3 separate regions of the Homo sapiens genome follow, and regions 1 and 3 are each reported to be linked to region 2. Evidence: microRNA targets listed by miRTarBase, many of them from high-throughput screens and not tested one by one. Region 2 holds a microRNA gene; each other region holds the end of a gene's coding sequence. Distances are between the middles of the regions.
Evidence for each region. The annotated mature microRNA hsa-miR-4251 reads CCUGAGAAAAGGGCCAA and lies in region 2 at 2,101-2,117, opposite strand. An mRNA with a match to its seed (bases 2 to 7 or 8) in the 3' UTR can be bound and repressed. Matches are read on the target gene's strand: a 7mer-m8 pairs with bases 2 to 8, a 7mer-A1 pairs with bases 2 to 7 and ends in A, and an 8mer does both.

Region 1 (4,000 bases), 64 Mb from region 2:
GAGTAATTTACTGCATTTTCCATTAATTCAGCTTAGTTAGACTGCTGGATCCAGTGCTTGTTTGCTGTCACATATACCTAATATGCTTTTAACATATGCCAAATTCTGTTCTTAGTTCTTTACATTTATTAACTTATTTAATTTTCACAACAACCCTGTGAGGAATATCTATTATGATCTTCATTGTATATATGTAATGAAATGGAGATACAGAAAGAGTAAATAATTTGCCTAAGGCGACATAGCTTATAAGTAATAGAGCAAGAATTTAGACTATGTATTTGATACCTTGCTTCCTTGATAACAATAACTACAAGCTGTTTTATAATAGTTTGCAAATTTAACTTTTTTCTAATTGTGGTTTCATTTATATTTCTTTCAACTTAGGAGTGTCATCTAATGGACCAGGTGAAATATTAAACAAAGAGGAAGTAAAAGTTGAAGGGTTACACATTAATGGACCAACAGGTGGAAATAAGAAACCACTTCATGCAGATATGGATACTAATGGTTATGAAACAGATAACCTTACCACTGACCCAAAACTTGCCCATATGACTGCAAGAAATGAAAATGATTTTGATGAAAAAAGTGAGAGACCTGCCAAAAGGCGAAGGGTAAACAGCAATGGAAAAGAAAGTCCAGGTTCTTCTGAATTTTTCCAAGAAGCAGTCTCACATGGGAAATTTGAAGAACTTGAAAACACAGATGACTAAATTTTAGACCTATTTTACTTTCTTTGGAGTAAATTCTGGTGTGACTAAAATTTTCAGGGTTGATGGGTTACCTTAAAAAGTTGATTTCCTTGAAGCAGTTTGAAAATTTGAATTGAGTCTTAACTTTAGGAAATGAGGTTTCATAATTCTGCCTTTTGCAGATTTTTTTACTTTAAAGCTGTCAGACTCTTTTAAGGGTATTTTAAAAATTAGTAAATTTGAATGAACTAAAGATATATCTCTACCTTCTCATTTGAATATCTTTAGTTCATTCAGATTTACTAATTTTGGTAAATCTGAATGAACTAAAGATGTATCTGTACCTTCTCATTTGATGTATTAATCATAAAATTTCACTACAAGGTAATTTTTGCTTAGTTTGATGGATGAATGGGAAACTCAAGTCCAAATTTCTGCTTAATACCAATTTCTCTGAGTTTCTTGAAATGTCTTTAAAACAGACATTTTTCTCACCAAACAGTTTGAGTATCTTTATTAAGGAAACCCTTACGAATCCTGAAAATTATGCTAGCATGATTTTTTTATATATAGAAGTTTAAAAATAAACCAGGTCAGGTTTGTATATGTAAAATTGTTGACATCAATGATGTCTTTCCATATTCTTATCTGGGCTTAAGAAATACATTCTGTATTTTTCCAGATTCTTTGTAGCCTTTGAAAGATTTTTACAGTACATATGTCTTGACTGAGCTGTCCTTTCTTAATACAAAAGCGTGTATAATTTTCTTAACTTGTACAGTTGGTAAACTTTTATGAGAGGAATTGTTATTCTGAGTCTGTCAGCTTTCATTTTATTTTGCTAAGGTTTTTCTAATGAATTTTTAAGTGTTTGTGTAGTAATTAAGTCATATTTCTTATCCAGGTGGTTAAAGCATTCATAAAGGATTATAAAATTTTTTTTTTTTTTTTTTTTTTTAAATTTCTACTTAAGGGCAAGTAATTTGAGAATTCTGAAATTAAGCATGATGCTTAGATTGCAGTTTGTTTTGCATTTGCTATAATTTTCAAAATTATTTTTGAAGCAAGACAAAAGTTTAATGTCAGCTTAAGTGCTTAAATATATCATGCTGACCAGAATCCTGTTATTTTTATATGCATCATAAAATTTCCCATTTCTGCATTAAATAAACAGAGGAGGGGGGTCAAGTGATACTTAGATATTGGCACACACAAGGAACAACTGTTGGCAGGCAGTATCGATTTTATGAAGAGAAAGTGAAGTTTGAAAACTTTTCAAACTTTTCTAGTTACAATCCAATTTTTCAGATTTGATAATGCTTTTCCAAAGTGAAAATAAGATACACAATAATCATTGCTCTGTGTGATTACAGATAGGATTATCCATCTGCATAGCCTTGTAAAAGTGCCATTTTATTTTTAGTGCTAAATTCTTGTTAAATAATGTAGTTTTATATAGCTGATAGACCAACCTATATCCAAACTTTTATAAAATATTAATTATTCTTGTTTTTCTCACACAGGCATACTCCAAATGCTTCTTCCAGTTCATTTTTCAGCCATCAGTTCAAGAGCCAATGCCTTTTTAAAATAAAGCTTCTGTGGTCTTGTTTTTAATGGCTCAACTGTCTGATGTAATTGAGTGAAGGTTTGCACTGAGAAATTAGCATTCAGGCCTTACCCCCATGAAGTATTACTGTTAACATATGTTCGGACTGCTTCCCTTCACCAATGTGAACAACTTTTTTTCCCAAACAGTGTTAAAAGCCACTTTGCAACACTTGACTTCATCTTAATGTACATTCACTGTTGTTACATACATATCTAAGTAAATCAAAGTTTTGGGTGGAAGTGTTGAGAAGTATGAGTTTTTTGTTGTTTTTGTTTTACTTAAAACTTTTAATTTATCCAGAATGGCAGTAGCTTTAGCAAGCAGATGGTCACAATCTGTTTTCTAAATCATTTTTTATTAAATGAATCCAAAGTATCCTAGCTCTTTGTCAAAGATGGTCTGTAGAAATGTTTTTAAAGATTAGGGATGCTGTACTTTTTGAATTGTTGCAGTGTTGGAGATGCCATTTTCACCTTTTTAAAAAGATGCATTTTATTTGCAGGTTTGTGAAGTTCTTGCAAACTCTTACTACAGAAATGTTTTAAATACATTCTCAGGCATGTTTGCAAAAATATGGCACATGTATACATTTTAGGAAATGTTACTTTTGTTAATCTTTAAAAAATACACCTAATGAAAGACATTCCACTATTATGCGTAATGCTCAGCTTTTTGTAAAGAAATATTTAATTGTATTTTGTGTTTATACAGGTATTTCACACAATAATTTGTTCTTAATGCAGCCACTATAACTTGATAAGTCATTGCACTATTTAAAAAGTTTTAGTAATATCATGAATTTAATTTGCTTAAGATTTAGTACATTTCAGAACTTTTGAACTTTTGACAAATTGCATTGGAAAAAGAAGTCTGTTAATAGTGATTTAGTCTCCCCGCCTCATTCCCACCCCCAACAAAGCACTATCATTTTCATTTGGAATGGGTATTTTCTGTTTCATGATGTATTTTCAAATAGAGTTCAGGATCTGCAATTCAGTTCAACACAAGTTTGTTGAGCTTTAAAATGTATTTGAAGTAATATTTAAATAGGCATTTAAAATTTCAAATTAGATGTTAAATTTATGCATAGTAATTTTGCACTGTAAAATAATTCCCTTCTCCCATTCCTTGTCTGCCATTCTGAATATGCTTATTAAAATATTTTTTTAAACATATTTGCCTACATAATACTGTGTGAATATTTTCATTAGATTAATTCACTAAGATTTTATTAGAGATTGTTTGAATGATGCATGTTATTGACAAGGCAAATATATATATATACACAGTCTGTTTCTTCTATTCCTAGACATATTGCACTACTTTTTCAGTGGTTCTTGGTCCCCTTTACCACATCTTGGGTGATGTATTTTTGTCTTCTTCCCCTTTGCCACAAGAGATCCTTTCAGTCCCTAGACCTCCATTCACTCTGTTTCTCTTCTGCTGGATTATATAATTTAAAAATAATGTGTTCCCGTATTTTGTAGTGGAGTTCATATCACATTATGTTTTGCAAAATAAAACTTGTTTTGTCACAATATTTTCTTTGCTATCGATGGATAATTAGGAGTGGGCACTTGGAATAACTGAGGGCTGGTGAATATAATAGGCAATATTTACATGGGGTGTGTAACTAAATACCAAATCAGATAGTAAGGTTTTCCCAACTATAATCCATATTCATGAAAAATGC
Region 2 (4,150 bases):
ACCCTGGACACTGAGCACGCAGCCCAGGACCTGTTGGGGGAGCAGGAGTCTGCCCAGGGGGTCTCCACCTCCCTCTGGGGTGCTTGGGCCTCACTGTCCCAGAACAAGCCGCCTGCACTGCCCTCCCAGCCCAGCTGGTCGCCTTGGCCCATCAACGCTTTTGGATGCCCTCAGTGGATACAAATGGCTGAGACCCTGCTGGGGCCCTGGGAAGAGGGAAAGCAAAAGCGGGAAGTAGGAGAGAGAGAGACTGAGAGAGGAGAGAAAATCAGACAGAGAGAGACAGAGAGGGGGAAAGAGAATCAGACAGGCTCCTGTTGGGAGCAGAGAAATTCTTTCCTTGGAAAAAGGGGTTCTGAAACCCCAATTCTCTTTTCTCTTCCAGGGATTTCTGCTCCGTACAGGGTCTGGGCAGTGCTAGAGGAGGACCTTGCCCCTACCTGTGGCACTGAGGGCCCTTGGGCTCTCCCACGTAACTGCGGAGGACCTGGGAGAACCTGCTTCAAGGGCCCCGGGTCCCCATCCCGTCCTGACCCTCAGCTTCAAGCACCCAGCAGGGAGGGTCTGCCCCGGCTCCTTTCCCAGGTGCCCTCAGCAGCCCTGGACGACACCCCTGTGGTTCAGCCAGTGTTGTGAGTGCACAGGCCACACACACACACACATGCACACACAGACACATGCACACCAGGAAGGATACACACACTCACAAGCACACACCAGGCAGGACACACACACACGTGCACACGCACCCACACACTCACCCACGTGCGCACACACACACAACCAGGCAGGACACACACCCACACACACACCAGGCAGGACACTGACACGCACACACCAGGCAGGACACACACACACATGTACACACCCACACACACGCACCCACATGCACATACCAGCCAAGACACACACATACATGTACACATATCCACACACCCACACACTAGGCAGGATCCACACCCACCCACACACGCACGCCAGGCAGGACACCCACACACGCACGTGCACACTCACCCATGCACGCACACCAGCCAGGAAACGCACACACATGCACACGCAACCCCCCACACACACATGCACCAGACTCCCTCCTGGTTTCCTGCTAGGGGAGCAGCGACCACACCCCAGCCTCCCCAGGGCCACCCTCCTCATCTCATCTGCACAGTCGCTCCCACTTCCCAGATGAAGAAACCAAGGCTGCCGGCCACGGCTGCGCACCCCCACCTGGGGCCAGGGCAGGCTCCCCAGGACTGGTGTTAGTGAGGGCCGAACAGTTCCAGCTCCCAGCAGGGCACTCACTGGGCTGTGGATAGCTGTCCACTCTTCAGGCTACGCCCAAGGATTCCAGTAAGGGAACCAGAGCCATTGGAGCGTTGCCACCACCGGAAAACAGCCACCGACCCGGGTGGGATGGTCTCCAGTAGCATGGTGGGATGGTCTCCAGTAGCATGGTGGGAGGAACAGGGCAGTCCACAGAGGGCTGGACGCTTCCTTCCACAGCTCACCGGCCGGTCACCGTGGCCGATCACCCTCTGGGTTCCCGAGTGAGAGTCCTCGGCCCTCATGCCCTGAGCCTGCAGGTCACCATTGTGGGAGAAAATGGAGCCACTGTGGAGCCACCCCAGGGTCCTGGGTGCGGAGCCATGCGGAGGGAGGGTTTTCAATGCCCTGCTACTGTGACCTGCGTTTCCCAAAGCCGTGCATGGGATGTCGTGATCAGAAAAAGGCAGGACAGAAGCAACCCCCGAATACTATAAATGCCACTTTAACTGGGATAAAATAGGAAATCAAAGTTGATCTGACGACCCCAGACTTTCTAGGACAAGGCACCCAGTGTTGAAAGTGAGCAGCAGATTCCCACGGCTGCCTCTTGGCCCCGTCAAACGTGAGGTCTTTGTTTCCCTCTCAGAAGAGAGATCACGGGTCTGTCATCACAGGGCATGGGTACGGAACCAGACCCAGATCTAGTCTTCAATTTCCGAACACTCAGAATGACTGTCTCTCTCCAGTGAGAGGCGGAGTTGATCCCTCCACAGCGGGGCTGACGGGGGAGGGGAGGAGATTTTCATACAAGTGCCCTCTGAAGTGGATGGAAGCACGTTGGCCCTTTTCTCAGGAATTGGCCACTAAGGAAAAAAGCTGGAGGACGTGTTCCCAGATGCCAGAAGGCTGACCAGAGGCGGGAGCCCCTCCTCCATGGCCACAGCACCCAGGCTTCTGTTCCAGGAAGCCAGGCCCCTTGATGGGCAGCCAAGCGCCTGCAGCCTCCCCGAACCCAGGGCTCATGGCCTGCCCGCCTCCCACTGTCCCCCCACACCATGGGGACGCTCTGCCTTTATGGGGCAGGCCTCAGGCCTTCACACTCACCCTAGGCAAACCGGCCTCTCGCTCAGAGATTCAGGCCGGGCCTCTGCACCGCAAGGGGGACATGGCCCAGGGGGGTCCCTCTCAACCCTCGTCCTACTGTCCTGGGCACTGGGGAAAGCAGTGGCCCTGAGCATCTGTATCAGTTTACAGGCAGAATGGATCTGCTTAGCAGCCAGTCTTCCAAAATGAAACCAGAAACCAGGTCTAATCATTTGAGCTCGATAAAGATTCCCCAAGTGCCCGGGGAAGCTAGGCTGTGGCTCGCTGGTAACTGGTTTGCTTTCTCTCCAGACACACAGATCGTGCAAGCAATAAAATGAAATACGTTGGCTGCACCCACAATGTGAAGGGGTGGGGGATCTATCTCACGAGGGCATCGTCTGGGTAAGATGATATCAGATGTAGCAAACAAGAAAAGCAAGGTTCCAGAAACCAACATATATCAGCTTTTGGCAAAGCCTGCGCACCGCCGTTATGCATTTTAAATAACTCGATGCCAAATCGTAACAGGCTGTCCTTGCCAGAAACCATGAGAGGTCAAGCGAGGATCGCAGAAGAGTGCAAAGATTTGTCTTTAGAAAGCACAGTGCTGAAATCTATTTTGAGTTTTGCAAAACAAGAGACCGTCTGGGCCTCTCTCTCTTTTCCTTGGCCTTTCCCTTTTCATTTTAAAACTAACATCTAAGTCTCGTCCCCACTGCAGGCCTCCAGCTCGGGGCCCAGGCTGGGCTGAGCCAGAGTGTGAGGACAGGACCCTAGCAATTGTGTCCGGGGCCGATGGTGGTCCTGCCCTGCTCCCAGGCTCGAGGGGCCTCCCAGCTGAGTCCAGAGTAAGCTCTCGATCCCCTAAAGTTTGCCGGAACAGACAGCGGGCCCGGGCCTGACACCAGAGCAACCATGCCCCATCTACAACGCTTCTGCACAGAATCAGAAGCCCTTCTGGAATCTTCCTGTCTCTGCCTTTTCGAGGTGCTGTGACCATCACTGGCGATGGGCACCTCATTGTCCCAGGCCCAGTGGGGAGCCCACCTCCAGGACTGGTTCCTGTCTACTCCTCCCTCACTCCAGAAGCACCAGCCCTACAGGGCAGGGTCCCTGACAGAGCCCAGGGCTGGAGGCTCCTGGTCCAGTCCCCAGCCCTCTGCCCACCACAGAGCTCAAGCACGGTAGGCCACTGCTTGGGATTGGGTACAGGCCCCTGGGTTTTCAAAGCTCATCTAGGGATTCCAGGAACCGCAGCAGGGTCTGGGTCCACCTGATCTGACCTGACTGTCCCTCGTTGAGGGCTGTCTGGACCCCAGGTGCTGCCTGCAGGTAGCCAGGCCTGTCCCTTCCTGCGCACCTGCAGCCAGCTCCTCCGGCCTTGCCCTGTCCACCTGAGCAGTGGACTGAGCCCCCGGGGGCATGGGAGAGACCTGGGGAGGAGGATGCCATTGGCACCTGTGGCCAGGGCTGGCCTGGGGCCAGACTGGCCGACACTGTTCCCAGGCACAGCCAGGCTGGCCGCGTGCGGCGGCGGCGAGAGCTGCGGGGACCGACTGTGCCTCTGCAAGCCCAGGGGAGCTGGGCCGGGAAGAGCGGCCAGCGGCGCCCGGGCCCACAATGGCCCCTTTCTCCCCGCGTTTATTGAGACAGTTCGGTTTGGAATATTTAAACAGTTGTATATTCACAGATTGCAAGAGGGAGAGGATTACCTAAGGACGAGCCAGCCCGATCAATGCATAATCAGATAACTGCCCGGGCTCTCTACAAGGTTTCACAGGAAGATCCGCCACTCAAACGC
Region 3 (4,000 bases), not on the chromosome of region 2:
CTTATGAATGTAAAGGGTGTGGGAAAGCTTTCATTCAGAAGTCAAGCCTCATTAGACACCAGAGAAGTCACACAGGAGAGAAACCTTATACGTGTAAGGAATGTGGGAAAGCCTTCAGTGGCAAGTCAAATCTCACAGAGCATGAGAAAATTCATATTGGAGAGAAACCCTACAAATGTAATGAATGTGGAACAATCTTCAGGCAGAAGCAATACCTCATTAAACATCACAATATTCATACAGGAGAGAAACCCTATGAATGTAATAAATGTGGAAAAGCCTTCTCTCGAATCACATCACTTATTGTACATGTGAGAATTCATACAGGTGATAAGCCTTATGAGTGTAAGGTCTGTGGGAAAGCCTTCTGTCAAAGCTCATCTCTTACTGTGCATATGAGAAGCCATACAGGTGAGAAACCCTATGGTTGTAATGAATGTGGGAAAGCCTTTTCTCAGTTCTCAACCCTTGCTCTGCACATGAGAATCCATACTGGTGAAAAACCTTATCAGTGTAGTGAATGTGGGAAAGCTTTCAGCCAAAAGTCACATCACATTAGACACCAGAGAATTCATACTCATTAAAGTTCTCTATGAATGCCTTGGATTTAGCAAAACGTTCAGCAGATTTTACACTTAATAGTGTATTGGAAAATTCATTTTACATTAAAGTGACATGAATGTGGGAAGTCCTTCAGCAGCAATTCAAAACTTAAATACTATGATGTTTAATAAGTATTATAGTGTAAAGAAAACCCGTACCCCCAAAACTCCCACAACAAGCATTATCAATGCTGTACTTCTAGGAGTATACTCATTAAAGTTAGGATCTAGTCATGGACACTACTTAATGTGTTCCTGGAAGGCCTACAGATGCATTAAGAAATAGATATGAGATGTATGAGGATTTGAAATTAAGAGACAAAATTATCATTTTTGTGATGTTTTGCTACATATATGAATTGTAAAACTAGAATCATCAAAATTATTTGTTGTTGAAGCAGTCATAAAACTGAGACTGAGACAGAATATTGAATTCAGAAATGTGTGCATGAATATATGGGGAATTGGTAATTGATAGAGGCGGTATCCCAGATTGGTGGGGAAATCATGGATTACTTAAAAATTAATTGACTCTTCATATGGAAAAATAATATCTCCCATCATAATATAAAATATTTTTCTTATGAATTCTTAAAGTACTAAAGACTAAAATGCAAAAAGCAATACTTAATAATATAACAGTTTTATAAGAAGATGTTTTTAAAACCTTAGGGCAGGAAAGAACTTCTAAAACATTCCAGAATACCCGGTAGTTCCACTCTTGAGTATGGTAGTCCCCTATTTTCTGCAAGAGATGGACTCTAAGACCCCCAGTGGATACCTAAAACCCAGATAGGACCAAACTCTATGTCTATGTTTTTTTCTTATATATACATACCTATGATAAAATTTAGTTTACAGATTAGACACAGCAAGAGATTTAAAACAATAATAAACATAATATGGAACAATTATAACAATATACTGTAATCATAAAAGTTATGTGAATATGATCTTTCTCTCAGAATACCTTATTGTACTGTTCTCAACTATTTATGAACTGTGGTGACTACAGGTAACTGAAACCATGGAAAGCAAAGCTGTGGATAAGGGGGAACTACTATATATATGCATCTACCCAAGAAACATGAACACAGGGAGTCATGTACTGGTCTATAGCTGTATAGTTCATTGCACCATGAGTTATAGTAGCCAGAAGTTGGGAAACAAATGCTGTCTCTTGTGAAATAGATGAATAAAATGTGATAGTAACATAGTAGAGTACTCTCTAGCAGTTAAGTGACAAATTAAGTCTATATATTAACAGAAATATTTTTAAAAAATTAGAGTGAAGAAAAATGATGAACATATTGTAATGATGCTTCTGTGAATTTGAATAAAATCAACACTAACCAGCCCTAGTACTAAGAATTGGTTATGGATAAATTATGTAAAACTAAAGAATGGATTGAAAGGATATGTATATACTCAGTTCCCAAAAGTGGAGTGGTTACCTCTAGGAAGAAAGGAGGTGGAAGGGAAATGTTACCAAGCATGGTAGTTAAAGGATACTTCAATTTTGTATCTATTTCTTATTAAAAAGAAACATTCTAAGTAAACATAACGAAATATTAATTCTGGGTGGTGGTAATATTTGTGTTCATTCTATCATTCGTGCTATTTATTTCCTTAAACTTCTGAAAGTTAAAAAGTCCAGATAGGAGTGAGGAAGCTGTACATGAAACATAATGGACTTACATTCCTAGTCAGATACTAATATTCTGTAGAAGATATTTCTAAAATCTTATCTTTAAAATATGAAATAATTTTTAATTGGGGTGGCAACTTAAATTCAATTAAAATAACTCATGTGTCACAAGAGTAAATTTTACATAATCTGTACGTAGTTCTAATCTGTATATAGTCTTGGAGGTTATGATTTGCCACAGATTGGTTGGATCACATACATTTAAGGATCATATTATTAAATAATATATGCACAGACATGGAGAGAATTAGTTTTTACTAAAACATTTATCAGAAATTTTAATACTCTGCATAACCAGTATTAGCATTAGAAATTAGCCACTTTTAAAATGAGAAAACTGTGTCACTCTTCAATTTTTTTATAAGCCATTGAGGAAAACATTAACTCCTGGATTTCAGCTTCACTTTTAACCTGCAGACTAAATTTCTTTCTCAATTATGTCAGACACACCCAAGTCAATCCCAACCCCCTTGTTACCTTGGGAAGACCGTGCTGAAAAAGGAGATCTTCCACCTAAACAGTGTTCTCTTATTTGAAGCAAATCTTTTTGAGAATTTGTTTACTTGATTTCTTTCCACAATAAACTGACAGAGAACGCTACTAATGATTTTTTTTTTTTTTTGAGACGGAGTTTTGTTCTTGTTGCCCAGGCTGCAGTGCAATGGCACAATCTTGGCTCACTGCAACCTCTGCCTCACAGGTTCAAGTGGTTCTCCTGCCTCAGCCTCTTGAGTAGCTGGGATTACAGGCATGCGCCACCATGCCCGGCTAATTTTGTATTTTTAGTAGAGACGGAGTTGCACCATGTTGGCCAGGCTGGTCTTGAATTCCTGACCTCAGGTGATCCACCTGCTTCGGCCTCCCAAAGTGCTAGGATTACAGGTGTGAGCCACCACGCCTGGCTAATTTTGTATTTTTAGTAGAGATGGGGTTTCTCCAAAGGCTGGTCTTGAACTCCCGACCTCAGGTGATCCGCCCACCTTGGCCTCCCGAAGTGCTGGGATTACAGGCGTGAGCCACCGTGCCCGGCCTGATGTTTTTGAATGATTATGAAAATGGGTATACAGCATTAAAACCTTAGACTGATTTTAAATATATTAATTTCTTTTAAACTCAATATAATGTTAATATTACTGTAGCACTTACTAGCATTTCTGAAGGTTGGTCTTGAGATAAGATTGAAAATGACAGTTGTTGATTTTCTGAGGTAATATACCCAAATAAAATATATGTATGTGTACATGAATCTAAACTGTCTTCTTCTGTTCCTCATTTTGCTTTACTTAAATAATCTTTCATATTTTTTAAGTGTTTTGCCCATGTGCTTGGGTAGCCTTGAAGTCACCAGAATAACTAGGACTCAAATTCAGACCAAACCAGGACTAGCTTTTTGTGCCATGAGTTAGCCATGGTCCTGGACCCAGCAAAAAGAATGATTATGATGGTCAGAGTAAGATGAGCAATTGCAACATAATATTCTCTAATATTGTATACTGTAAATTTATTCAGCTGCCCTCGTTTACTCACAGTTTGCTTATTTGCCACCATAAGAAATGGTACAATAAAAATTCATGTAATCACCCCTTAGATTTCAGTTGTTTTTATTTCTGTGGGTCAGATTACAGGGAAGGGATTGGTAGATCAAAGGATTGATGTTATTTTAAAATTTTTAATAGATGTTGTCAGAGTC

Region 1: the mRNA of MIER1 is a reported target of hsa-miR-4251. Seed matches in the 3' UTR shown: 7mer-m8 at 2,858-2,864.
Region 3: miRTarBase lists ZNF260 as a target of hsa-miR-4251. Seed matches in the 3' UTR shown: 7mer-A1 at 1,562-1,568.

Annotation. Positions count from the first base shown.
Region 1 is chr1:66,984,185-66,988,184 of GRCh38, forward strand. It overlaps MIER1 (MIER1 transcriptional regulator), which reads left to right. Exons shown (of 14, transcript NM_001077700.3): 14 at 388-4,000. The coding sequence ends at 716. It also overlaps a transcript of SLC35D1 not described here. Among named protein-coding and RNA genes, the nearest start is that of MIER1, 61 kb to the left of the region's middle. RefSeq lists silencers at 352-401, 389-589.
Region 2 is chr1:3,125,976-3,130,125 of GRCh38, reverse strand. It overlaps MIR4251 (microRNA 4251), which reads right to left and starts at 2,151; the gene lies at 2,091-2,151. All of the region lies in intron 1 of PRDM16 (PR/SET domain 16), which reads right to left. RefSeq lists enhancers at 962-1,887, 3,331-3,941.
Region 3 is chr19:36,510,584-36,514,583 of GRCh38, reverse strand. ZNF260 (zinc finger protein 260) reads left to right here. Exons shown (of 3, transcript NM_001166037.2): 3 at 1-3,897. The coding sequence ends at 584. Among named protein-coding and RNA genes, the nearest start is that of ZNF260, 16 kb to the left of the region's middle.